Linked DNA regions of Homo sapiens. The protein of the gene in region 1 purifies or fractionates together with the protein of each later gene. This does not show direct contact. Each region holds a gene or a part of one and is shown in the gene's direction. Other genes may lie near its edges.

The links.
Region 2: the proteins of SULF2 (region 1) and PON2 purify together in Homo sapiens (affinity purification with mass spectrometry; 3 studies listed by BioGRID and IntAct, with this or other methods). This does not show direct contact.
Region 3: the proteins of SULF2 (region 1) and OS9 purify together in Homo sapiens (affinity purification with mass spectrometry; 2 studies listed by BioGRID and IntAct, with this or other methods). This does not show direct contact.
Region 4: the proteins of SULF2 (region 1) and SPON1 purify together in Homo sapiens (co-immunoprecipitation; 2 studies listed by BioGRID and IntAct, with this or other methods). This does not show direct contact.

Annotation. Positions count from the first base shown.
Region 1 is NC_000020.11:47,670,458-47,677,483, reverse strand, and holds part of SULF2 (extracellular sulfatase Sulf-2 isoform a precursor), read left to right. Parts: intron 1-349; coding exon 350-406; intron 407-860; coding exon 861-990; intron 991-5,090; coding exon 5,091-5,286; intron 5,287-7,026. UniProt on the Homo sapiens protein: Exhibits arylsulfatase activity and highly specific endoglucosamine-6-sulfatase activity. It can remove sulfate from the C-6 position of glucosamine within specific subregions of intact heparin.
Region 2 is NC_000007.14:95,404,348-95,411,040, reverse strand, and holds the end of PON2 (serum paraoxonase/arylesterase 2), read left to right. Parts: intron 1-939; coding exon 940-1,140; intron 1,141-3,972; coding exon 3,973-4,054; intron 4,055-4,793; coding exon 4,794-4,922; intron 4,923-5,552; coding exon 5,553-5,711; 3' UTR 5,712-6,179; downstream 6,180-6,693. UniProt on the Homo sapiens protein: Capable of hydrolyzing lactones and a number of aromatic carboxylic acid esters. Has antioxidant activity. Is not associated with high density lipoprotein.
Region 3 is NC_000012.12:57,697,119-57,704,144, forward strand, and holds part of OS9 (protein OS-9 isoform 1 precursor), read left to right. Parts: intron 1-7,026. UniProt on the Homo sapiens protein: Lectin component of the HRD1 complex, which functions in endoplasmic reticulum (ER) quality control and ER-associated degradation (ERAD).
Region 4 is NC_000011.10:13,958,299-13,965,725, forward strand, and holds the start of SPON1 (spondin-1 precursor), read left to right. Parts: upstream 1-4,424; 5' UTR 4,425-4,606; coding exon 4,607-4,844; intron 4,845-4,858; exon of another isoform or gene 4,859-6,747; intron 6,748-7,427. UniProt on the Homo sapiens protein: Cell adhesion protein that promotes the attachment of spinal cord and sensory neuron cells and the outgrowth of neurites in vitro. May contribute to the growth and guidance of axons in both the spinal cord and the PNS.

The DNA of each region.
Region 1 (7,026 bases):
GTGCCGGGGGAGTTGCTGGGCTTCCTGGGAGGGGCTTGAGATGTGTGTGCGCGCACACACACACACACACACACACACACACAGTTACTTGGGTGGGACTTACAGTGATTTTGACCTGGGTCATTTCTACTGTGTGTGTCTCCAGACCCAAGTCTCTGGGGAAGGGGTGGCTCAACTCAGAGGAGGGTGGGCAATGCTCTAGTGCCCAGCTGGGCACACTCACCACAATTGCTGTCCAGGCTGACCGTAAACCAAGGCTGACTCCTGGTGCCGTCCCTGCTCCTGGGGGAACGGGGGGTCGTGGGAAGCCCTCATGTTGCTGAGAAGCAGGAGCCGTGCTTTTTTCCAGGTTTCACTTGAAAAAGAAGATGAGGGTCTGGCGGGACTCCTTCTTGGTGGAGAGAGGGTGAGTGCCGGGTCCTGGGAGGGACACCCCTGCCCACCTCCCTCCCTCTGCCCAGGAAGCTTCTGTAGCCCCACCGCATCATGCTATTCAGGAGCTGCCCATGGCTCTGAAGTTGGTCCAAAGGCCCCTAAACACAAAGCCCATTCACTGCTCCTATAGACACAGAATTGGGGTCTGAGGTCACGTGTACGCTTTTGGCATGCTTTGTCCAGCCTCTACAATGTCTTCAATTTATTTAATTTATTGCCAACTCATGCAATTTGGGAAGTTTCTTATAAAATTCCAATGTCTTAAGTTTCCTAAACATCAGAAGACCCGGGCAGGTGGCCCTGCGCCCTCCACTGTGAGGAAAAGCCGGAGCCGAGGGGGCACCCCTCTAGGTGGGCACACATGCCTCCGGGGCTCCTCCAGAGCTGAGAGGCCGGCCCCGCGGCTCCTGCTCTCTGCCCCATAGCAAGCTGCTACACAAGAGAGACAATGACAAGGTGGACGCCCAGGAGGAGAACTTTCTGCCCAAGTACCAGCGTGTGAAGGACCTGTGTCAGCGTGCTGAGTACCAGACGGCGTGTGAGCAGCTGGGACAGGTAAGAAGGCTCCCTTCCCTCCCAACGGCTCCCCCTCCTGACTGCAGCCGGCCCTGACCTGCGAGGCTCTGAGAGCCGCTGAGCCAGCAGGGCCAGGGCCTCCCAACGGGTAGTCCTTTGCTGCCGTGTGGTGCCCAAGATGCTGTTTGGTGGTGCAGGATGATGCTCACAATAAGTGATTCATTTCTCAGCAGCCTTTGGACCCTGACCGTGTCAGAGGCCAAGTGTCCCGTGGGTGTGTGTATGCCCTTAGCGCCTCTCTAGCCCTTGCCGATCTCTCTTGCACGAAGGCCCCAGCAGGAGTTAAATTATTTTATTTTCACCATATTCACTTTGACAGTATCCTCTTTGTGACTGGTTTTCCTTTTATAGGAGTAATAAGACATGGCTTTTTAAAATAAATATAGGTAAGGTTTTAAAAAGTGAATTGATTGCAAGAGAAATATTAAGGAAATTATGGCCAGGAACAGTCCGTGGCTCATGCCTGAGGTCCCAGCTACTCCAGAGCTGAGGCGGGAGGATGGCTTGAGCCCACGTGTTGGAGGCTGCAGTGAGCTATGATTGCGCCACTGCACTCCAGCTTGGGTGACAGAATAAGACCCTGTCTCTAAAAACATAAGAAAAAAGAAAATTATCTGGGAAGTATCAGAGATAGCCAGAAACTGACATGTTTGGGAAAGCCTGAAGGAGGCTTTTCTGAGGCTGGAAAGCCAGGGCAGGCTTGGAGAGGAGGGTCGGGGGCGGGGCAGGGCAGGGAGGGGAGTGGGATGGAAACTCTGCCTTGGCTGGCCCAAGGGGTGCCGGAGGTGTGTCCCTGCCCTGCCTGTCAAAGGCTGGGACTTTGAGCTGGGGCTGGAGCTGTGTGCCTGTTTCACCTATGAGAAAAAGCAAAACCAGGGCCCTGGTATTGAAGGCCAAGGCCTGAAGTGGATGCGTTTCTGATGGACTGCATTTGAATGACTCCATCTTAACACTGCACACAGAATTAGTACAGGCCCATACAGGCCTGACTGTGCCTCCCCACCCAGTGTGTGTTTGTAAACCCACAGACCCCTCTTAGTCACACAATTAACCCGTATCTGCCACCGGGCAGGAGCTGTGGATTTCATCCCTCCGTTGTACAGCATGAATGCGTCCCCCCGCTTGCCAGGCACTGTCCTAGGCGCAGGGCCACAGCCTCGAACATGCTCAACAGAAGCTCCTGCCCTCCCAGAGCTGATGTTCTGGAGAGAGTTCAGCCTTGACTTTGTACCGAGATCCCAGAAGTGGTTCTGATTTTAGTTCTGGGCTAAAAGGAGTGAAATGAGGAGGCCAGGAAGTCTTTGCCCCTCGACGAGGGAACGTTGTCAAGTCCCCCACTGGTTCTTTCTGATGTCTCCCCTGACCCAGATCAGGGCTTGGGCAGCCAGAATGACCTCTTTGCTGGGGCCAAGAAAGAGGAGGTATCAGCATTTTCCAAACAATCAGAGCACACCACTGAAGCCAAAGGAAGAGAGTGCTGAGGGCGGAGTTTGGGGCACTTAGCCTAGGCCAGCTGGGAGGCAGCAACCCACGGCCCCCGACCCAGCCCCGGAGCTTTGGGGACCTCAGGCTCAGACGTCTGCCCCCCATCCCAGGCAACGGCCCTGCTCACAAGCCGGTACTCCCCGAGTGCCGTTGCCATGTCCCTGCTTGTGCCGTGCCTTCTGGAATGCCCTGCCCAGTGTAGAAGCTGTACCCTGTGGCCCGAGGACGTCTCTTAGGGGCCTCACACCCAGCCATAGCATTGTCTTGGGTACCTTGTCCGTGCTACCCCACGTGGTAGATGTTTTTTTGTCATTTGCTGAACAAACGTGCCCAGGAACCGAGCTCATGTGCATCTGTCTGTCTCCCGGTGACACGGGGACATCCTAAGGGCAGGGCCCGGCTAGAATTCATGTCATCATTGCCAAAGCCCAGACCAGGGCCCAGGCCGGGCAGGAGTAAATGTGCCCTGGGCACCTCGTAATGATGATCATCACGGGCAACACGTGAGTGTAAGCTCTACCTCCAGCCACCCTATCTGGCAGGTATGTTCTGTACACGGGGAAACTGAGGCCCAGGGCTCAGGCAAACTGCCCACAGCCTCACAGCTTCAAGTGGTGGAGGCAGGATTTGAACCCAGGTAGTTGGGCTGCGGGACCTTCGTTCTCAGCAGCTGTAGGGACCCCAAGTCAAGCCGACACTGGCCCAGCCCTGTGGGGCTCAGGCGCCGCCCCCGCCAGGACAGCCTCGGGACGGGCCATGTGGACACGGCTTCTACATGAGTAGTTGCAGGGGCAGCAAACCCTTTCCGCACAAGATCAGACAGTAAATAGTTTGGGCTTTGCAGGCCACATATTTGTTTTTGTTCTTGCTTTTTACAACTCTGAAAACGTACAATGTAAAAACCGTCCTTGGTTTGCAGGCCATACAAAAACAGGCTGTGGGCTGGAGTTGACTAGCAAGAGGGCTGCTGTTTGCCGACCCCTCAAGTCGTGCCCCAGCTGAGTTTGTTGGGTTGGAGCGGGGAGCAGGCAGTGGGGAAGGAGAATTCCAGGCAGAGAGAGCTAAGTGGACAGGAGGCTGCTCGCCAGCGCACACAGCTCAGGGCTTCACGCAGAACTCAGAGCCCTGGCTTTTCTTGAAAAATCAGACCTGGGCTTCTGGGCCTGTGCTCCCCTCTGGCGACAGTCAGATGGGTATAGCCGGTCACAGTGCCCACTTTAGCCTCCCCAGGTCCCCCAGGCGCTTCTGGGCTGGCCTCATTCAGGGCCATGCCTGCTGGCCCATCAGTCTACTTCTGCACTAAGGAATCCAGGTTGCTGGAAGGGCCTGCATGCATTGAAGGGGATGGGAGGGTGGCAGGGCGCTGTGAATGCAATTAGATTCAGCCTCCAGGTGAGAACAGATGGGCGGGACAGGGGCAAGATGAGCAGGTGAAAGGCACCAGGGCCTTCAACGGCAGCGGGCGGGGGCAGACGGTGCAGCAGAGGGTTGGGGGGGATGGTGGCACCAGACTCCACACTTTTCCTTACAGCTCTTGCACCTCCCAGTTGTGTGACCCAGGACACATCTCTCTACCTCCGTGTGCCTCATCTTGAATCGGCACAGTAATGACAGCACCTGCCTCGTAGGGTAGCGTGAGGTGTAGTAAGCAAGTTAATATATTAACACACAGTGCTTGGCACATGCTAAGTGCTGGAGAGACACAGGGAACAGATCTGACCCATGGCCTGGAAAGGTCACTTTGGCACAGAATAGGCCCTAAAGAGTCACTGGGTCAATGGGCTGGAGCAGCTGTGGACAGAAGGGAAGAGAATCCAGTTTACAGGTGGTTGCAGAATCCCGTGAGGGGATCCAGGAGGCTGGAACTGGGGAAGAGCAGAAGGATCAACACGAGAGATTTGGACAGTGATTCTATCTACATTCAGCGTCTGACCACAGGCCTGGAGTTGAGTGCACACGTGGAGCCTCTGCACACACTGCACTGATTGAGTCTGGGAAGGTGGTCAGGGGAGACCTCCTTGCGCTGGAGCAGACGGGAAGGAAGAGAAGCCTCCAGCAGCAGGAAGGGCTGGAGAAAAGGCATTCTAGGCAGAAGGAACAGTGAGCGCCAAGTCCCTGGGGCAGCAGCCCACAGGGGATACTGGAGAGAGGGCTGAGGGAGAGGAGGACCGATGGGTAGGCCAGGGCCAGATTGCAGAGGATGTTCAAAGACTAGTATCAGGAGCTTGGGTCTTGTCTTAAAGACAGTGGGAGCCATTGAAGGGTTTTAAGTAGGAGAGTAATATGATCCAACTTGCCCTTTAAAAAGATTCCTCTAGCTGCCATGTGGGTGGATTTTAGGAGCAGACAGAAGCAGGTAACCGTGAGAGTGGTGGCTGTCGGAGGCATCTCGCTGGGGGATGATGGTAGCTCTGCCCAAGGTTCAAGCAGTGGCAGTGGAGAGAAGCGGCATTGGAGATAGCAGAGGTGGGGCTCGGTAACAGCTGGATGCAAGCAGGGAGAGGGATGTCTCCAGGGTGGATGGGGGTGGCAGGGGAGAGGCGGGTTTAGGGGAGCAGATGAGCAGCTGGCCGAGGCCCTGGCATGTCTTTCAGAAGTGGCAGTGTGTGGAGGACGCCACGGGGAAGCTGAAGCTGCATAAGTGCAAGGGCCCCATGCGGCTGGGCGGCAGCAGAGCCCTCTCCAACCTCGTGCCCAAGTACTACGGGCAGGGCAGCGAGGCCTGCACCTGTGACAGCGGGGACTACAAGCTCAGCCTGGCCGGACGCCGGAAAAAACTCTTCAAGAAGAGTAAGTGTCACAACCTGGCTGAGTGGGACAGGAGGAGAGAGACCATGCCTGGGGGGCCCCATTCATTCACTCCGACAGTTCCACAGAGACTGTCACTTTGCCAGGTGGTGATCTAGGGGCTGGGGACACAGCCACATCTCCTCACGAGCCACCCATTCTAGTGGGGAGCAGTAGTAATAAACAGATAAGGCCAGGCGCAATGGCTCACGCCTGTAATCCCAGTACTTTGGGAGTCCGAGGCAGGCAGATCACCTGAGGTCAGGAGCTCCAGACCAGCCTGGCCAACATGGTAAAACCCCGTCTAAAAATACAACAATTAGCCAGATGTGGTGGCTCACGCTTGTAATCCCAGCTACTTGGGAGGCTGAGGCATGAGAATCGCTTGAACCCAGGAGGCAGAGGCTGCAGTGACCCGAGATTGTGCCACTGCACTCCAGCCTGGGCAACAGAGCGAGATCCATCTCAAAAAAAAGGAAGAAACACACATACAAGGTTCTGTATTGATTGGCTGGTGAAAATGCTAGGACCAGAGGTTCACAGGAACCCAGCTCTGTGCTTCCCCTAGGAGCCATGTTTCAGCGTTCAATTAGTCAGTGTTTGTGGTGAGTTTATAGAACTACCCTGGGCTGGGCGCGGTGGCTCACACCTGTAATCCCAGCACTTTGAGAGGCCGAGGTGGACAGATCACTTGAGGTCAGGAGTTCAAGACCAGCCTGGCCAACATGGTGAAACCCCATCTCTACTAAAAATACAAAAAATTAGTTGGGCGTGTGGTGTGGCAGCAGAGTCGCTTGAACCCGGGAGCAGAGGTTGCAGATAGCTGAGATCACGCCATTGTGCTCCAGCCTGGGCGACAGAGTGAGACTCGGTCTCAAAAAAAATAAAAAATAAACTACCCTGAAGAACAAAAATAGACTATAGTTGAGTGGGGAAAAGCCTCACTCAGCTGAAGAAGTGTCTACACCTTCACACCTCATTCTCGGCAAGGGCCGAGGAGAGGACAGTCAGACAGAAGCCAGGGAGCAGGCGAAGTGGAGAGAGGGACTCTTCTAGACCCAGCCAGAAGGCTCAGCCGCCACCCTGGGCCATCGCTTCACCATTCTGAGGCTCAGCTCCCACCATCAAACAGGAAGAATGGTCCCTGCATGACTTTAAAACAAGAATGAGCCTGTGCCCTGAAAATGTGTGGAGGCGTCGGGGTCCGCCGGCTAGAAGTGTGCCCTCCAAGGCTGGGCAGCTTCCCACGTAGCCCATTTCTCTGGCCTAAGGACAGCCAAAGCCTAATGAGAGATTTTAGGTGTTGTTTTTAAAAAAAATTATGGTGAAATTCCCATAAAATTTATCATCTTAACCATTTTTAAGTATCCAGTAGTGTCAACTATATTCCCACTAGTACGCAACCTATCTGCTAAATGAACTCTTCATCTTGCAAAACTACAACTGTCCCCATTCAACGTTATCTCCCCATTCTCCCACCCCGCTCCCACCCCCACCCCGTTCTCCCACCCCGCTCTCCCACCCTGCTGTCACCCCATTCTCCCACCCGTTCTCAGCAACCACTCTTCTTCTCTATGAGCTTGACTGCTTTAGGGGCCTCATGTAAGTGGAATTGTACAGTATTTGTCCTTCTGTGGCTGGCTTATTTCTCTTCGCATAATGTTCTCCGGGTTCATCCACATGGTAGCCTGTGTTGGAATCTCCTTCCTGATCGGGCACAGTGGCTCACGCCTGTAATCCCAG
Region 2 (6,693 bases), on another chromosome or scaffold:
AGTTTAAACTTGATGAATATTTTTAATTTCTAATGAAATTTCATTTCTAATGAAATTAAAAATATTGCCTATCTAGGGCCTATCTATGCCTATCTAGGGCATAAGCATGTAACTTCCAATCATTCCTTCCAAAAATGCACTTGATAAAAAAAAATAGGAGCATAAATACCATCCAAGCATTATGGTGCTCTTTCAGAAAAATGAGACCTACCTTCCCTGTAGCTCTATATTTTTCATTTAGCAAAGAATAAAGCAGCTCTTTCAGAAATTTTTGCATAGAGTAATTGGAATTTAAATTTAATAACACCCTCACCTAACTGGTCTTAAAATGAAATTGTTTTTAGCATATAAATCTCTCACCTGAAGCATTGTACTATGGCAATTTTATCATCCATCTCTCTGCAAGTGTTTATTGAGTGCCTGTTCATTCTCGGCATGTCAGCTTTGTGAAGCAGGTAGAAATTGAACAGTCAACCTTAGTTTGACTAATAACTAAGCCAGGGAAATTAGAAAAATCCAGGAACTGAGTAAATGGAAGCTAGGTAAATGTTACTGACTGCCTAACCAGCTCACCAGCCAATCAGGCTCTCTCCAGCTCTGTACTGTGGACAGCTCTGTCCTTACGTATAATTGTTAAACCCTACATTTCTTGCTGTCAAAAAACATGCCCTGATGGCACTAAGTTCTTTCTTCTCTTATGGTAATCCTGCCATAATTGCTAAATGACCTGTGTTCAGATTACCTGGTACCATACAAAATTGTTCTCTGGCAACAATATTATAGTATATTGTATATGACTATAGTCGTGATTTTTAGCTCGTCTTTTCCTCTTACCAAAAATTTAAAGCACATGTTGCATAAATCTTATGAGTACTTAATATTTAATATGGAGACCAACAGGCCTTTTGTTTCCTCTCACATGCTATTTTTCTTTTTCAGTGTGAATGACATCACAGCTGTTGGACCGGCACATTTCTATGCCACAAATGACCACTACTTCTCTGATCCTTTCTTAAAGTATTTAGAAACATACTTGAACTTACACTGGGCAAATGTTGTTTACTACAGTCCAAATGAAGTTAAAGTGGTAGCAGAAGGATTTGATTCAGCAAATGGGATCAATATTTCACCTGATGATAAGTATGGCCCCTTATAGAATATCTTCATTTTTCTTCAGTTGTGGTGCTGGCCAAATTCTTTACTTTGCTTTCTTTGTCAATGTGAAAATAGTTTTCTTGACATTTATGGTATATTATACATATAATATATAGATACACTATATATATAATTATATATGTTTTGTATATATATTTACATATACTTAGTCACATGTATTTATATGCAAATACAATACCATATTTAAGTAAACTATATAATACAGTAATATATATGTATTTATATATAATATATAAAGTTTGGAATACATCATTGTCAAATTTAATTTTATAAATATAAATTTTAAAGTGTGATCATACTGATGCATACATATTGAAGTATCAGGTATTTCCTTTTAAATAAATGTATTATTTTTATTGGCTATACATTATTCCATTATAAGGATGATCTTAAACTAATTTAACCAATTCTCTATTGATGGATATGTGTATAGGGGTGGGGAGTTCTACATAAAAAATATTTTATACTTCTTATTTACCATGGAATTTTAAACAAGTATTTTTTTTAAAGAAAAAGTCCCTAGGAGAGTGTTTTTTTTTTGTTTTGTTTTTTGGAGATGGAGTCTCACTCCGTCGCCCAGGCTGGAGTGCAATGGCATGATCTCAGCTCACCTCAACCTCCGCCTCCTGGGTTCAAGTGATTCTCCTGCCTCAGCCTCCCAAGTAGCTGGGATTATAGGCATGCGCCACCATGCTTGGCTAATTTTGTATTTTTAGTAGAGATGAGGTTTCTCCATGTTGGTCAGGCTAGTCTTGAACCTCCAACCTCAGGTGATCCGCCCACCTCAGCCTCCCGAAGTGCTGGGATTACAGGCATATGCCACCACACCTGGCTCTAAGAGAGTATTATAACATAATGGTTAAACTTGCAGATTTTGGACTCATACAGGCCTGGGTTCAAATCCCACCCAGGGCACTGGCTAAATGGTTCTATGAGCTACTTTTCTGTAGAACAGACCCCTAGAAATAGAACTATTTGCTCAAACAGTGTGATTCTTTTAAATGTTAACTTTAATAGATATTGCCAAATTGTCCTCCAGAATTATCTCATTATTTTTATATGCACAACCACAACCTATAAGAGAAGATATTAAATTCTTGATAGCTTTCTTATCTACTGCCTCAGCACACTGAAAAATTTAAACTACTACAAATACAACATAAAATAAATTTGGCACTCCTTGACAACTAAATGCCCTTATTTTTGTAATCCAATTTCTCCTCCTTTCTTGTTGACTATAGAAAAAGAATGTAGAATCATTTAATTTAAATTGTCTCTAACTGACCTGATCCAACCTCTGCAGCCAAATCTGTTTTTCACTCTTATATTTCCATTATGAGAGTCAAACTTTCCAATCACCCAAGCTAACAAAAAAATAACAATAATGAAAAGGGAGAATCAGCTTTTACTCCTCTTTCACCATTCCTATCCAGCCTGTAGGCAGGTCCTGTTGGTTCTACCTGTGCCTCCTTCCTCTACCCCCAAACTCCTTTCCCTTTGAGTGAGACCTGCCTAATTTAGGTTGTCATCCTCTCTGACTAGCATATGAGACTTTCTTCCAATTTGTTTTCTGTCTACTTGGATTTTTTTCACTCTTGCCAATTTTGTCTGTCTATCTCTATTAGCCTTGAAGGGCTCCCCAAAGAGGGAACTCTGTCTTCCTCACCTTTGACTCCTTATGCCAGTACAGTGCCAGGCACAAAGCAAATGCTCAGGAATTGTGGAACAGAACTGACCATTTGTTGCCACTTTATTATTCTAAGATTTCAGTGGAATCCAATTGCTTATCAAATCAAGGCAGGGTAAAGGGTTGGACTTTGTTTAACAGGCCACCTCCAACCTCCCTTTTCTACTATTTCCATGCTTTCTATGCTTTAGACAAAGAACTCATTGTTTTAAACATTCCTTCCTCTTCTTGCTCCTGTGATTCTGCTCTTGTGCTTGCTTCTGCCTGGGAAGTGCCTCCTCCGTCCTCATCTCAAATCTCATCTCTCTTTACACAGCCACTGCAGATGCCCCTTCCTTGGTGAGCCTTTCTGTGTCCTCGGAAGTTAGCTATTTCTAGACCTGAACTATTTCTCATGCTTATTAGGTGTTTAATGTGTACAAACCAGTGAGATTTGTTCCAACACACTATAAACTTTCAAGGAGAGAGGCTGTGTCTTCTTCATGTTTATATCTGCTGCAACACTGAGTTCATGGCTTTTCACACATAATTGCTCAACAGAGCAGGTGCCATGGAAAGTCAATTCAATGAGTAAAATTACCTCAAAATAGTCTGTTAATTCACTCACCTTTGAAGTAGACAGATTATTCTGCATTGATACTTATCTCTTACTCTTAAAATTCGCTATGTATTAATAAATATTTTATTGAATATTAAGGAATGATCACTATTTTAATAAGATGTTCTTTACCATATATTTCTATATGTACATGATAATTAGAAGTATCAAATTATATTGTGGAATGTAAAAGCTTTTCTTCTGAAGCCAAGCATTTGTTTTATTGTCATTTCAGTGGCAAATATGGACTTCATATTCAAAATGATGTTCTATATTATTTTTCCTTACAAGCTTTTTGAAAAACAATTTAATAATTCCATGATTGTTGTAGCACCACTGAATTGATTCTGAAAGCTTACTTTTTAAATAAAAATTGACCTTTATCAAGCATTCCTTGAGGGCCCATGATTGATTAACTTCTTGGCAGGTTATTAAGACTTATTCTTTCACACTGTATTAATGAAGCTTTATATTGGCATGGAGCTCTAACCACTGTGTCCTTTCTGCAAAGGTATATCTATGTTGCTGACATATTGGCTCATGAAATTCATGTTTTGGAAAAACACACTAATATGAATTTAACTCAGTTGAAGGTAAAATATTTATTTTTACATATAGACAGTAATCTATTATGCTTTGCAATGACATAGTTTTTCTATAAGAGTACCACACGTAGAACAAAATATGGATGCCAGTGTAGCTATTCTGGGTTTTTAAATACTCCCTACAACTAGAGAAAGCTCCTGTTTCCAGCGATCTCAAGAACTGACCATGATTACATGCAGCAGCAGGTTGAGAGTGATATTCATCAGATTTAGGGCCCATTCCATGAAGTATTGATGGCAGTGGAAGAATTCCAATAAGAATTTTCACAATTGAAAATACTAATAGATGAATTCTCAAATGAAGGTTTATGCACAGTGTCAGTTCTTTCAATAATACATGAAGGTAGAAATTGGGTTCCACACCATTATTATTTTCTTCCTACTCAACAACACATATTTTAGGTTGATTAAGAATTTCCTATCTTGCTTTGATTGAGTTCCTTGAGCTAACTGATCATTGTGCATCTTTTAAAGGAAAAGGAGTTCAGTTTTTAAGATAGATTTTTACAGAGACCGATTATCACCCTAACTTTCTTAATTTCAGGGAAGAAGAAAAGTGGCTCCAAACCAGTTTTTAATACATTCCTTTTAAGCAATATTGGTGTTAGAAGGTGGAAGCAGGGCGATGTGTAATTTCCTCACATGCATAGAGGCAGGAAGGTTACCTCTAAATTATTTAATCAAGTTTCTCATGTCATTTAGATTTTGACAATTTCTCATTTGGAAGGTACTTGAGCTGGATACACTGGTGGATAATTTATCTATTGATCCTTCCTCGGGGGACATCTGGGTAGGCTGTCATCCTAATGGCCAGAAGCTCTTCGTGTATGACCCGAACAATCCTCCCTCGTCAGAGGTTTTTATATTTTCAGTTTTTTAAACTTAATTATTCAAGTCCTTTTGAACTAATAATACAATAAATTGTCACAGGGATGATTTGTTTAGTTATTTTAAAGCAATAATATAATAAGCTTATGTCGTGGTTTTGTAATTGCGTTAAGCCAATAATTGGCAGAATGTTACATTGTTCAAATACTTTAAGAAAGGTAATCTTTTGATGTATTAAATTATGGTGGAAACTAGTCAAAAGGCATTTTTATAAAGACATGTGCCCTTCTTGGGTGGTATACTGGCAATTTTTAAAATATCTGATTTATTGTCAGCTCACCACATGATGTGATATTTGTTCATGTTGAAGTAGTGTGAAAGTAGGCACATTAGTATGAAAGTATTTCTATTAAAGCTGAATTGCTATAATAACACTAAATCCTGTGTTGGCATGGAATAACTAGATGGTTTTAAGAAAGTACTTTCTTTGAAGATTGGAGAAAGTACTTTAATTTAAACATTAAAAAGATTGGTAACTGCTATTTTCAACAGCATGTCCCCTTAATCAGTGTGTCATTGTGGAAAACAGGGCTTATTGATGATTGAGTGACATGCATGTACGGTGGTCTTATATTCATACTTTGTATCCCCTGAATAGGTTCTCCGCATCCAGAACATTCTATCTGAGAAGCCTACAGTGACTACAGTTTATGCCAACAATGGGTCTGTTCTCCAAGGAAGTTCTGTAGCCTCAGTGTATGATGGGAAGCTGCTCATAGGCACTTTATACCACAGAGCCTTGTATTGTGAACTCTAAATTGTACTTTTGGCATGAAAGTGCGATAACTTAACAATTAATTTTCTATGAATTGCTAATTCTGAGGGAATTTAACCAGCAACATTGACCCAGAAATGTATGGCATGTGTAGTTAATTTTATTCCAGTAAGGAACGGCCCTTTTAGTTCTTAGAGCACTTTTAACAAAAAAGGAAAATGAACAGGTTCTTTAAAATGCCAAGCAAGGGACAGAAAAGAAAGCTGCTTTCGAATAAAGTGAATACATTTTGCACAAAGTAAGCCTCACCTTTGCCTTCCAACTGCCAGAACATGGATTCCACTGAAATAGAGTGAATTATATTTCCTTAAAATGTGAGTGACCTCACTTCTGGCACTGTGACTACTATGGCTGTTTAGAACTACTGATAACGTATTTTGATGTTTTGTACTTACATCTTTGTTTACCATTAAAAAGTTGGAGTTATATTAAAGACTAACTAAAATCCCAGTTTTGTCTGTGTTTAATTCTGAAGGCATATGGCTAGGAGAAATGGGAAAGCAGCTGCTTCCTTATGGAGTTTGGATAGGCAAGCATGGCCATATTAATTTCTCTTGTGGAAAGCTGAAAGTGAATGGACTCTTAATTTGAAACAACAACAACAAAAATCAATGAAATATTGCAACTCAAATTCCCAGTTCCTAAGGAGGTTTCCATCAGCTCTCTTCCTTAATGGGAGTCCACTTTAGAGACAAAGAGGAAATAAGGGTTGGGACAGGAAGGTCTTGCCACCTCCTCATTGAACAGAACTGTGAACTAAAGCCAGGAGAATGAAGTCAGTCGTCCGTGACCACATGGTTAAGCAGCAGCAATGCTAGGATCAGGGCCGCGTGCCCAGCTCACAGAGGGAGAGTTTTTCTGCTCACTGTACCTCCTATAAAATCATCATAAGCCCTAGAGAGAGACTTTCATGTGTTTCTTTCCATTGTAATTTATCAAACCACTTTACTTCACTTCTCATACT
Region 3 (7,026 bases), on another chromosome or scaffold:
TGTGTGCTGGTAAGTGTTGGACCCCCAGATCTCTATGGGTGTGGGAGGGAAGCCCTGATCTGTAATGTTTGCCAATGCCTGTGGTATAAATACTCCCATGATGCGCAAGTCAAATGATGTCAACTGTCTTGCAACATTCTCCAAAACTTACCAGTTGGCTCCAACACACCTGTAAGTCTGCATCACTTCTCTGTTCAGTCCTGAAAAACCTTCAATGTTTCTGCCTTGCACAAAGGCTAAGAGCCAAATGTTTCAGCACAGACCAGGGTGGTGGCAGTGGAGGTGATGGGAAGTAGTTGGATTCTGGATATATTTTGAAGGTAGAGCCAATGAGATTTGTTGATGGTTTGGATGTGGGATAGAATCATGGATTACTTCAAGATTTTTGGCTTGAGCAACTGGAATGATGGAATTGTAATTTACTGAAGTGTGAAGGAACAGGTTTAGGGGAGGAAATTAGGTTGGTTTTGGATATTGAAGGTTGAGGTGCCTTTAGACATCCTAGTGGTGATGTCCAGTTGACAGTTGGCTCTGTGGTTCTGGAATTCAGGGACAAGGTCTGGGATAGAGATATAAGTACTCATTGTATTTCTGCCACACTGGCCTTTTTCTGTCCTTCGAACCAGTGGGTCTCATTGTTCCCTCTGCCTGGTGCAGTCTCCTGCAGATCTTTAAATGATTGGCCCCATCCCCTCATTCAGGTTATATTCAAGTGACAACTCCCAGGGAACCTAACATAAGCAAACACACACACACACACACACACACACACGGAACCTAACATAAGCAAACACACACACACACATACACACACACACACACACACACACACACACACACACACACACCCTATTGCTCCTGTCCTGGTAAGCATCCACAGTGTTTTGCATTCTTCAAAGCATGTATCATTACTTGAAATTATTGTATTTGTTTAATTCTGTCTTCCCTCACTAAGATAAGCTCTGGGAAGGCAGGGATGATGTCTATCTTGTTTTCTTATGTATCCACAGCTCCTGGAACAGTGCTTCACTCAAATAGGTACCTAGAAATTATTCATTGAATGAATGAAATGACTGACAAGCCAGTTCTAATATCACCTTTCTTGATTAACCCAGAAAATTAGTTAGTTGTGTTCCTTCACCACTTAATAATACAAGCATCCACACACGTATATAATCCGTTATAGCACTTCATTGTATTCTAGTTATTCGTTTGGGTGTTTGTATCTTCAGTAGGCCAAGAACTGAGGTCAAGACTGCATAGCTTCCTCATATCTGGTGAACATATGCCCTGTGCCAAGCACTAATAGAAACTAGGAACAAAAAGGTGGATGAGACCTAGTCCTGCTCTCAGGAGATATGTTAAATGAACAGCCACAACAAGCAGGATAAATGCCATGAGCAGTGAAGTGCAGCCCGCAGGGGAGCACACAGTCGGGACAGAGTCCAGGGTGAAAAGGAGGCCTCTTGGGAAAAGTGACCTTTGAACTGACATTGGAGGATGAGGAGTTAGACTAGCAGATGGAGAGGATGGTGGGGGGAATGAGAGGGCATTCCAAATGGAAGGTGCGCTAAGTGCAAAAGGCCTGGAGACAAGAGGCAATGGCCTATCCCAGGAACTGACAGATACTCACAGGGACTGAGGGGATAATCATGGGAAGAGGAGTGTAGGAGATGAGTCTGGGTGGTTGGTAGGGGACAGGTCATGAAGGGCTCTGTAGCTATGATGAGGAATTTAGACAATCCAAGAGACAATGGTTAGGGGAGGCAATGAGGTATTTGAAGCAGAATGATGACATATTCAGGTTTGGAATTGAAGGCCCACTCTAGCTGGAGTATAGCAAAGATTGAGAGCTCACTTAGGCAGCTGTGGTAATCCAGGTGTGAAATAAAAGTGGCCTGGGGATGAAGAAATGTGAATATTTAGAGACAGATTTAGGGGGTAAAATCAACAGAGTAAGAAGGAGTCAAGAATGATTTCCAGGCTTTTGGCTTGTGCAGTTAGATAGAGGGTGATTCGTGTTCCTGAGATAGGTATAATGAGAAGAGGAGTAGGTATGGTGAAGGAAAATGGTGAGTTTGGCTTTGAATATGATTTTAGTGGCTGCTAGGCATTCAAGTAGAGATTTCCAAGGGGGCTGTGGATCTCTGGGTCTGGAGTTCAGCAGAGAGATCTGAATTGAACCCAGAGGTGGGGAGTTGTCCTTGTATCAGCCATAACTGAAGCCAAGGTATGGATGAAATCCCCCAAAGAAAACAGTATCTAATGAGAAAAGTGGGATGGAACTTCAAGGAAGCCATCACTAAGAGCATGGGAAGAAGAGGGTTTTGCCAGAAGAAAGGGCCAGAGAGGAGGCTATGGTGACATGGAAACGAGGAAGGACACATTTGAAGGGGAAATTGGTCCATGGTGTTGGCTGTGCCTGAACCTTCAAGGAAGAGGAGGATTAAAAACTGCTTATAGGCAATCATAGTCATTATTATTTTAATAAAGGCAAAACATGTACATGGAAATAAAAAATTCAGACAGTAGAGAAGAGAGCCAGATGGAAAGTATAAATTCTCTACTTCCAGGCACCCCTGACCAGTCCTTTGGTTGGACTTAATGATAGAGATCATTGGTGATCTTTGCTGGGGCAATTTGAGCAGAGTTGTGAAGATGAGGTGTTGAGAAAAGTGGTGAAAAAGTGGAACTCTGCTGGGCGCGGTGGCTCATGCCTATAATCCCAGCACTTTGGGAGGCCAAGGCAGGCAAATCACTTGAGGTCAGGAGTTCAAGAACAGCCTGGCCAATATGGTGAAACCCCATGTCTACTAAAAATACAAAATTAGCCGGGTGTGGTGGTGGGCGCCTGTAATCCCAGCTACTCGGGAGGCTGAGGCAGGAGAATTGCTTGAACCCGGGAGGCGGAGGTCGCAGTGAGCTGATATCGCACCATTGCACTCCAGCCTGGGTGACAGAGTGAGACTGTCTCAAAAAAGAAAAAAAAGAAAAGAAAAAAAGAAAAAGAAACTGGAAATCTTTGAAGAAGTTTGGATATGAAAGGGAGATAAAAGGTAAGCATTAGTGAGAGGTGCTGGGGGGTTGAGAGAGGGGGCATTCTGTGGTTGGTGTGTGTTTTAAGATGGAACAGACTAGAACATGTTGAAGACTTGGGTGAATGTTAGTGGAGAGGAGGAGAGGGAAGTCAAGGTACAGTAGAGAGAATGTGAAAAGAATGTGGACAGGGATGGGATGCAGAACCCTGGGAGAGCAATTTGCCTCAAAAGGAAGGTCTAGGGTCGTAACTGGAATGGTGTATTTGCTAGTGAGTCTGGAGGTTTTGGTGGCAGAAAGTTGAGGCCATTCCTGTCTGGTTGCTTCTAGTTTTCAGTTCTTATGCCACTTGCCTAGGTGATCAGGTAAAGCCCCTACTCCAGGGCAGGCACTGTGATGTGTTGCTGGCCTGATGCCTCCTCAATAGGAACAGCGTGCATGTTGTTTAAAGTGCAGTCTCTGTGGGGCTAGGGAACAACTGGTTAGCTATATGGAATTAAATAAATTCCTATTTATTGGTGTGTGTTTTAAGATGCAACAGACTAGAACATGTTGAAGGCTGTTGGGTGGATGTTAGCGGAAAGGAGGAGAGGGAGATCAAGGTACAGTAGAAAAAGTGAGAAAAAAATGCGGACAGGGCTGGGATGCAGAACCCTGGGAGAGCAATTTGCCTCTAAAGGAAGGTCTAGGGTAGTAGACCAACTCAATTCTTATAAAGTAAGATTCTAGAGATATCAAAGATTTTTTTAAGTTATAAAACATACAATTATACAAAAAAAAATGTCATAGAGACCCATAAATTCACTGCCAAGTTAAACAGATGTTAATGTTTTGCCTGATTTGTTTCAGATCTCTGGTTTAAAAAAAGGAATAAAATGCTTGTGCTAATAGCTAAAGCCCACCTTCATATTTAGTCACTCTCCCTCCCGCCAGAAACAACCACAACCCTCACTATGTTTGTTTTGTATTTTTATTACTGATATATATATTACAGACAATAGATAGTGTTTTGTGTTTTAAAATTATACATCAGGAGTATCAACTTGTTTTTTTCACTGATCAGTGTGTTTGCCATTCAATGGCATGACATGGAACTCTGGTTGAGTGATTTTTTTTTTTTTTTTTTTTTTTTTTTTTTTGAGACAGAGTCTCGCTCTGTCACCCAGGCTGGAATACAGTAGTGCAATCTAGGCTCACTGCAACCTCGGCCTCCTGGGTTCAAGCGATTCTGCTGCCTCAGCCTCCTGAGTAGCTGGGACTATAGGTGCCCACCACCACGCCCAGTTAATTTTTATATTTTTAGTAGGGAAGGGGTTTCACCATGTTGGCCAGGCTGGTCTTGAACTCCTGACCTCAAGTGATCCACCCACCTTGGCCTCCCAAAGTGCTGGGATTACAGGTGTGAGCCACCGTGCCTGGCCTGGTTGAGTGATTTTAATGTCTGTATTGTGTTTCATTGCTTACTTACCCATTCCTCTGTTGATAAACAGTTGGGTTTCAACTCTAATGCCCTTATACACAGTGCTGCAATGTAGGTCTTATTGTGAGTGTACAAGAATTTCTCCAGGGAAATACCTAGAAAGTAGAATCACTGGGTTACAGGAGTGTATGTTATTGGTGAATTCAATTTTTTGTTTGTTTTGTTTTGTTTTGTTTTTTGAGATAGAGTTTCACTCTTGTTGCCCAGGCTGGAGTGCAATGGCGTGATCTTGGCTCACTGCAACCTCCGCCTCCCAGGATCAAGCGATTGTCCTGCCTCAGCCTCCTGAGTAGCTGGGACTACAGGCGCCTGCCACCATGCCCAGCTAATTTTTGTATTTTTAGTGGAGACGGGGTTTCACCATGTTGGCCAGGCTGGTCTTGAACTCCTTACATTGTGATCCGTCCACCTTGGCCTCCCAAAGTGCTGGGATTACAGGTGTGAGCCACCATGCCTGGCCCTCAATTTTTTTAATGATTGAAAAAATATATAACCTAAAAGTTATCATTCTAACAGTCTTTAAGTGTACAATTCAGTGGAAACATTCAGTGTTCTATCACCATCACTACTATTTCCAAAACTTTTTTCATCATCCCAAACAAAAATAACTCCTATTTCTCCCTCTCCCAGACTCTGTTCTACTTTCTGTCTGTATGAGTTTCCTGTTCTAGGTACTTCACATGAGTGAAATCATACAAGATTTGTCCTTTTGTGTCTGGCTTATTTCACTTAGCATGGTGTTTTCAAGGTTCATCCATGTTGTAGCATATATCAGAATTTTATTTCTTTTTATGGCTTAATCATGTTCCATTGTCTGTATATACATTTTGTTTACCTATTTATCAATGGATGGACAAATAGGTTTTCATCTTTTGGTTACTGTGAATAATGCTGCGATGAACATTGGTGTACAAGTATCTGTTTGAGTCCTGTTTTCAATTCTTTTGGGTCTGTACCTAGGAGTAGAATGTGCCTTATGGTAATTCTAGGTTTAGTTTTTTGAGGAACTGCCAAACTGTTTTCCATAGCAGTTGCATCATTTTACATTCCTAGTAGCAGTGCACAGGGTTCCAGTTTCTCCACACTACCTCCATCACTTATTTTCCTTTGTTTTCTTTTTCTTTTTTTTCAGTAATAGCCATCTTAATGGGTGTGAAGTAGTATCTCATAGTGGTTTTTGATTTGCATTTACCTAGTGATTAATGATGTTGAACATCTTTTCATATGCTTGGTGACCATTTGTATATCTTTTTTGGAGAAATGTCTATTCAAATCCTCTGCCCATTTTTGAATTGAGTTGGTTTTTGTTGGTGAGTTGTGAGAGTTCTTTATGTAATAAATTCTGAATATTAATCCCTTATCAGATCTATGATTTGTAAGTATTTTCTCCCATCCTGTGGTTGCCTTTTTACTATCTTTTGTTTTGCTTTGTTTTTTGGAGACAGAGTTTCACTCTTGTTGCCCAGGCTGGAGTGTAATGGCGCGATCTCAGCTCACTGCAACCTCCGCCTCCCAGGTTCAAGCGATTCTCCTGCATCAGCAGTGTCCTTTGGTGCACAAAAGCTTTTAATTTTGATTTCCAAGAGTTTTATAGTTTTAGCTCTTAAATTTAGGTCTTTGATTCATTTGAGGTTAATTTTTTTTTCTTAGAGATGGGGGTCTCGTTATGTTGCCCAGGCTAGCCTCAAACTCCTGGGCTCAGGTAAGCTTCCTACTTCAGCTTCTGAGTAGGTGGGATTATAGGGGTGTGCCATTGTGCCCAGCTGCTGATTTTGAGTTAATTTTTGTATGTGGTGTAATTTTTGCATATGGTCCAACTTCATTGTTTTGAATATGGATATCCAGTTTTCCTGGCATCGTTTGTTGAAAAGACTGTCCTTTCCCCATGGAATATTCTTGGTATCCTTACCAAAAATCAGTTGACCATATATGTGAGGGTTTATTTCTGGCCTTTCTATACTATTCCATTGGTAAATATGTCTGTCTTTTTGCCAGTATCACACTGTTTTGATTATAGTAGCTTTGTATTAAGATTTAAGTCAGGAAATGTGAGTCCTCTAACTTTGTTCTTTTTTTAATATTGTTATGGATATTTGGGATCCCTGGACATTCCATGTGAATTTTAAGATTTTTTTTTTTCTATAAAAAACACCATTGGATGCCTTTCATTTCTTTTTCATTCCTAATCACTCTAAAACTTCCAGTATTATGTTGAATAGAAATGAAAAGAATGGCTGTCCTTGTCTTGTTCCTAATCTTAAGGGAGAAGCTTTCAATGTTTCACCATTGAGTATGACGTTAACTGTGGGTTTTTCTTATATGGACTTTATCAATAACTGAAGACATTCCCTCCTATTCCTAGTTGATTGTTTTTTTACATGAAAAGGTTATTGAATTTATCAAGTCCATTTTCTGCATCAGTTGAGATGATCATTTGGGTTTTTTCCCCTTCATTCTATTAATGTATATGACATTGATTTACCTATGTTGAACCATCCTTGCATTCTTGG
Region 4 (7,427 bases), on another chromosome or scaffold:
AGTTACCCATTTGTTTCTCAAAATCCCACAAGGTAGGCAAGATGGGTATTACTATGTCCAATTTTGCACATAATCCGTGTAGATAGGTCCTGTGACTTTCCAAGACTGCACAGCTTCACATGGTGAAAACAGAAGAGCCAGCCTGGAACCCATGTACTTCAAGTCTGAATTACGGTCTAGGACGACGGTTCCTTAAACTTCAGTATGAGTTTTTCTTCAAAGTACAGATTTAGTAGGTCTGGGATGAGGTTTCGGAATCTGCCTTTGAAGCAAACATCTGATGCTCATGTTTCAATGACCATACTCAGAAAAACACTAATCTAGAAAATCCTTTTCCCCCTTCTCTCTTAAAGCGGGGAGAAAAAAGAGGGAGATCTTACCTCCTATGAATCAAAGGACTTTTCTCGCCTTGGAGAACTGGAGCCCCCAGCTCTTCTCTTCTGCGACCTACCCACACACACTGATAAAGTTAATTATCTGCCCTGGCTAAATGACTTTCCTTAGCAACACCCTAGCAACTGACATCAGCTCTGCCTTAGGCTACAAAAACTGGAAGGAGATTTCTTGAAGTCCAGTATATTTTACAAAAGAACAAAACATCTGAACAGGAAATTAAGGGGAAAGTAAACTGGATTCATTGCTAGGAGATGAGAAATAGACACATGAAATAGTTCATGACAATCCACTGGACCACAGTAGTCAAAATGGGAAACTTTTTCTCCTCCTCAGTTCTACTGAAGTCCACAGGAGGGGAGACTGCAGGATCTCATTCTATGGAGGAAAATTTAATCAGGCAGGAGGAGGGAGGGCATTCCAGGCCATGAGAAAGCTGTAAGCAAAGGTGCTGAGGCAATACTGAAGTGGAGGACACGGGGAGCCCAGCTGGGTGGTGCTGGGAGCTCAGATTGGGATCTATGACCAGGCATGACCAGATGGACACAGTGAGACCAGATTGTGGATGGCCTTAGAGGCCAAGTCTTAAAATTTGGGCAGAGTCAGAAGGCACTGAGGGTAGGCTTGTTAAAAAGTTTTTATTCAGAGAAAAAATATTTATGGAACCCCTACCAGGGGCCGGGCACTACGATGTGCACGGAAAATACAGTGGTAAGCCCCATAGACATCCCCTACCCTTCTGGAGCTTAGAATTTAGAATGGAGACAAATACTGAACAAATGTAAAATTTTAAACATCAAACTTATAAATCAATGGGTCATTATAAATCTTAATATTAAAAGAAGCCAGGTGTGGTGGCTCATGCCTGTAGTCCCAACACTTTGGGAGGCTGAGGCAGGAAGATTGCTTGAGCCCAAGAGTTTGAGACCAACCTGAGCAACATAGGAAGACCCTGCCTCAAGAAGAAAGAAGAAAGAGGAAAGGAGAAAGGAGAAAGAAGAAGGAGGAGGAGGAGAGGGAGGAGGAAGAAGGAAGAAGAAGGAGGAGGAGGAGGAGGAGATTAAAAGAAAAGGTACTCATGAGCTTCAGCAGAGTTTTGGGGGCTGGATCTATTCTAGGAAATCAGAAAGGCCTTCTTTGGGGAGGCAGTTTTGCACTGAGATCTGAAGAGTACATAGGAGTTGGCCAATGGAGAGTGGTGGCTAGGAGAGACCAAAGAGCATGATAGGATTCCAGGCAGAGAGAACAGCACAGGCAAAGCCCATGAGAGAAGAGCTGCATGGCTGGAGAAGCAGATCAAGCAGAGCCTTGGAGGCCTGGCTGAAGATTCTGTCTTTATTCTGAGAGCCCTGAAAAACCACCAAGAAAAAATGTTAACCTCAGGATTGACATTCAAATCTGCATTTTTAAAAAGATCACTTGGGCTTCAGTGCAGAAGACAGATGGAAGGAGAGCACAAGTAGACAAGGGCAACCCAGTTAGGAAGATGAGAGAGGATGTCAACACAGACAGGGGTAGTGGTGGAGAAGAGCGTGAAACTTGATGTGGTGATGGATCGGATGAGTGGAGAAGACAGCAGAGGTCTGAGTGACAGCCAAGCTGGTTTAGGAAAACCTAGCTCATGTAGTGGGATTGGAGCTTGGTGAGCTGGTTAGAGCCTGCCGTCATAGCCCAGATGATAGGGCGAACACTGTGTACTGGAAAGTACCTCATTTGGTGTTGGGGATGCCTGTTTTAAATCCTGGCTCTTTCCCTTAATAGCCATGGAACATTACCTCAGCAGGTAATTTCATAGGCTCCTAATCTGAACAATGGGAGTGCGGAGGTGAATTGGGACTGCCTACTTCCCATAGTTTTCCTGTCAATATCCAATAAAAAGTTAAATATTGCATTCCTGCCTACTTCATGCCCACCCATCTCCAACTTAGATTTGAACCTTTTGTAGATGAATAGAGGTTCAAGAGCACAGATTTGAGCTTTCAGACATAAAATAAGCTTTGTGAAGACAGGGGTCACAATTTATTCATTTCTGTAGTTTCCTGCCCTCTGAGATAAGATCAGGTACACTTTCAAGAACCACTTATTTTAGTTTGTAGCATACATCACAATTATAATTTTAAAAGATTCATATAATTATGTATTTAATATTTGCCTTTGCCACAGGCCTGTAAAATCCTCAAAGGCAAGTAACATATCTGTGTTTTGTATCCAAGCACTGAGCACGTGGAGGGTCTTTGTCATGAATGAATGGATGGATAGAAGGATGCATGGATGGATGGATGGATGAATTTTTGTTCCGTCTTCTACCTACCGGTCAGCACAGAGTCTAGCTCCAAATCTACACTTAATGAAAGTTTGCTGGATGAATGGGACCGTGCAACTTGGAGTGCAGCATGAGCTCTGAGCCAGTCGAGTGAAGATGCAGACAATTCCCTCAGCACTCAGACATGGATCTGAGCCTCACCTCAAAAAGGAGGGCCGATCAGCTGGATCAGGTGCTGCTAGGGTCAAGAAGGGCTAGGGATGAGAGAAGAGCATAATTGGCTTCAGCAAGGGGTTACTTTCAGGTGACCTCTGAGAGAAGGCGTCCAGTTAATAGTGGCAGTGGGAATTCCAGCACAAGCACTAAGGAGTAAGTGGGCAGGCAGGGAGGAATGGAGATCTCCCATGCACCTAGCGCCCTGGGCCTGTTTGTAGCATTATGAAAGAGAAAACCCTGACCTGGAAAGCAAAGGAGATTGCTTGCTAATTGTAGGCACTTGAGGTGTGTCGAAGGCCCTGGGCAAAGAGAAGACGAGGAAACCAAAGCTTCTGAGGGCACCTGGGGAGGGATGTTTGTGTGCACTGAGAGGCAGGGGGCTTATGGTATCCCCAAGCGGGTGAGGGAGCAGGCGCCACTAGAGACCAACTAGAGTGTTTTATATGGGTCATATCATTTACTTCTAGCATATCACCCCACTACCTCTAAGAAGGATGTACTGGCACCCACCCCCACTTCCTTGTTCTCCAGAGCAGGAAACAAGCTTGGAGAGTGCGATAACTAGCCCAAGCTTCACAATGGGTGAGTGGCAGGACTGAGGTTTGATTCGGGTCTCTTCCCAGAGAGACACTGGGAGAGATTCTTGCCCCAGGTCTTTTCCCTTCAGGCCCTCAGGCTCAGCACCTCTCTGAACATCTGTCCCTGGGGAGTGAGAATCTGAACTAAAATGTAAGCCAAGAAAACACAGGCTCTTCATTGAATCTTTGGAAACTCCTTTCCTGGGCTGTAGGAGGACCTTCCTGAGCCTTAGGCACTTTTGCCTTTGCTGGCTCTTTCCTCCAAGTCAAGCATATTTTATGACTGTGGAGGTATAAATACAAATATATTAACATTATATAGTAAAACATTTTGTTTGACATAAATTTTTTCTTCTGATTTTTACAGAAAACATTTTCATAGATCTCCAAAAGTATCGTGGGCCCTAAGCGCTGTAGCTAAGTCGTTTCTCCTTTCTCAGCCTCCAGTCTGACATGTTCCACTATGGCCTTGGGAAGAGCAATGGGCCCGGAGTCGCCGCATCTAACCCTGCTGTAACTGGTCGCAAGTCACAGTTTGCTCATCTATAAAGTGAGCGAAAGTAATGTAATCTTTATTGGGAGTAGGGAACATGAAGGCGAGTCGATACAGTAAGTAAGCCGCCAAGCATATTGCTAGGCACAGAGCAGGTGTGCAACAAAAGTTATTTCTCAGGCTTTCCCTCCTCTGAGCGCCGTCCTCCAGAGGGTCCGGAGTGTAGCTGGGGGTTGGAGCAGCAGCCTCCTAGGCGATGGGACAGAGCCCACAGGGTCCGGTATGCCACGGTTTCTTCGTCAGACCCTGGGAATCCAACGTCGCAAAATAAACACGGCCGCGCCGCTAATCGCCAGTTCGGAGGAAACAAAACAGCGCTGCGCTGGGGGATCTGGGCAAAATCAGCCCTCCCTCCTCCCGCTCCTTCGCCGCGGCCCTCCCCTCCTCGCGCTGCTCTCGTTCGCTTGGCTCAGCTCAGCTCAGCTCAGCGCAGCTCCGCGGCCGCCAAGCCGAGGCGGGCACGGTCTCCGAGTCGCGGACGCCAGCTCCGAGCTCCCTCTCTCCGCCGCGCCTCCGCCAGGTCGCGCCTTCGTCGGGACCACTTCGGGCAGGAGTCGCGTGGCGAAGGCCTGCGGCCGCGGCACAAAGTTGGGGGCCGCGAAGATGAGGCTGTCCCCGGCGCCCCTGAAGCTGAGCCGGACTCCGGCACTGCTGGCCCTGGCGCTGCCCCTGGCCGCGGCGCTGGCCTTCTCCGACGAGACCCTGGACAAAGTGCCCAAGTCAGAGGGCTACTGCAGCCGTATCCTGCGCGCCCAGGGCACGCGGCGCGAGGGCTACACCGAGTTCAGCCTCCGCGTGGAGGGCGACCCCGACTTCTACAAGCCGGGAACCAGCTACCGCGGTAAGTGGCCGCCCGGCGTGGCATTAGGAGAGCGGGACCCGGTCCCCGGAGGGCGCCGACCTCGCGGTGCCGGAGGAGGGCGCGCGGTCTCCGGGCGCGTGGCGCGGGTGCAGCCCGGCAAGGGCCCTTCTGTCCTGGCTGCCCTCGGCCCTTGCAGTCGCGAGCTCGGCGCGGATCATAATCCAGCGTCCCGGGCCGTCGCGGGGGCCGCAGCCAGGAGAGGCACCCCGCGTTTCCGACGCGCGGTTCCCAGGCGGAGGATGTAACTGAGCCACACGTCACGCCGGCCTGACTGCAAGGGAGGCTCGCTTCTCCCCCGGCCGTCTGCAGGAGGGAAGTAAAACTGCCTTTCTCCAAATCGGTCTGGAGGGGACCCAGGCTTCTCTTGGTCGGGTCCCGGGCAAGGCAGCCACTCCAGCTTTCCCCGCTCAGTCCCTGAAGGAGAGGGTACCCGATTCTCAAAGACTGGCCCTGGGCGGGACAGCCACTCCGGCTTCCCTGGATAGGTCCCTTCAGGAGAAGGGACTTTGGCTTCTCCCTAACCGGTCCCGGGGTGCGGGAAGGAGGGGCAGGGACAGCCTAAAGCTCCTCGAAAGGGTCCTTGGAAAGAACCCCAAATTATTCTCTCGTGGTCCCAGACGAGATAGAGTATCTTGGGTTTCCAGAACAGGTTCCCAGTGGGGACAGGGTCCTCAAAGAGCTTGGGGTAAGCTCCGAGCTGCAAGGGGAATTGGATGAAGATGGAAAGAGAAGCCCCGATGCCCGAGGCCTGCTCCCTGGAGGCCGGGGAACCTTGGCTCCGGCAGCTCGGAGTCTCCACGTCCCAGGGATGTCGCGCCTACGCCGCTCGGCTGAGAGTGGGGTTTCGGGAGCTCAGGGAGGAGGTGTCCAAGCAGGTGAGAGCCTCCTAGGCGGGACAGGCAGTTCGACCAGCACCGATCTGAAGACGCCTGACTCTGTCCCCACGCCCGCCACCTCGCTCCTCAGCAGGGTCATCTCCCCAGACATCGTTTCCCCGTGCAGCAGCAGCCGCTCTCCGGGTGGGGGACAGGTAACCAGGAAGGGAAGCGAGCCTGTCTGGCCTCACCTTAGCTCCCGCCAGGGAGCGTGTCCTCTCACCCTCGCCCCTTCATAAGTCAGCTCTGGTGCTAAGCAGGGATGAGCGGGTCACTGGGGCACCTGGTGGGGCAAATGGGCTCCCAGCTGCTGTACTTTCCTCCTCGCCTTCCCAGTTCCCCAGAGAGCCTTGGACGGAAGCGGTGGGAGCAACACAGGAGAAAGTCTGGGGCAGCGTCAGCGGGCGCCAGGGTCACGCCGGAGACCAAAGCCAGGGGCCACCCTTCTTGGAGCGCTTTTCCCCCTTTCCCGGGTTTGTGTCCCCGACTTTCTCCACCCGGAGCTACCCAAAGCCGGCTCCTTGGTGCCCTTGGCACCTTGGCGTGCTGAGCACTTTGCGAGGAACAGTCTGACCCCGGCGCGCAGCTCCGCGGGATCCTGGGTACTCCACGAAGAAAGATTCTGGGCGGAGAACACCCCGCCCAGCCCGGGAGGGAGCGCGCGGCTTGGCACCGCGGCTAGAGCGAGCCGCGCCGACGGGCGGCGACTGCCACTCGGTGCAGCCGGGAGGCGGCCGATCCTCCCTGTGGACCGCAGGGAAGCGGGTATGACTTCAGTGGCCTATTCGGCCCTCCCCAAAACTGAGGACCTGAGTTCACAGGGGAAACTGTCCCCGCTCCACGTAGCAGAGAAAGAAGTGGCTCTGGAGTCCAACAGACTTGGGTTTACTCGCTGTGTGACCTTGTGCAAGTCATTTAATTTCTCTGCACCTATTTCCTAGCTGGAAAAAAAAAAAAGCTGTTTATCCACCCTCTCTTGGTGGTAGGGAGTAAATGAGTTTACAAAGGTGAGTGTGCCTGAGCTAAAAGAGATTCCTAATAAGCCTAACAGTTGAATGTGAGGCCTTTATTGGTTTACTAATGGAGGTAGGTTCTTGATCAGATTTTTGTTTTTGAAGAGTGTTGTGCGTTTGAAAGCAGGTTTCCTCAGCTCTCCTCCAGTCCCATTCATCTACCAGTGGTTATTTGGGTCCTCATGAATTAATTGAATGAATGAATGAGGTATTTTTTCATATCAGGAGCCTTGCCTAAGACTGTTGCTAATGCAAGCCCAGGAAGATTTTTTCAGTGACTTAGACTAGTCTGAGGTTCAGGCCAAGTGTACCCAGCGTCTCTTTTCACACTAATCCTCCGTGTTTTAGTTGAGCATTGGCAGCTGGTGGCCCTAGCACTGGGAAGGAGATACAGCTGGTATTCACGGGGCCAAAGAGGTTTCAGAACTACCTAAACGTCCAGGGCCAGCAGGTGGGGAACTGGGACTGGATAGGGAGTGTCCTGGACTTTCACCCTACAGGCTACTCCTGCCTAAACAGCCATCTGGACTTTGACACCCCAACTCAGGCTATAGATTGGGCAATCATCTTTTCTCCCTTCTTATGGCTAAAAGACCTTGGAAGAGATCTTGCAGGAACCATGCTGAGGTTTTCCAAGTAAATATCCTGCAATTAGCAAACCTGATTCTGCCACT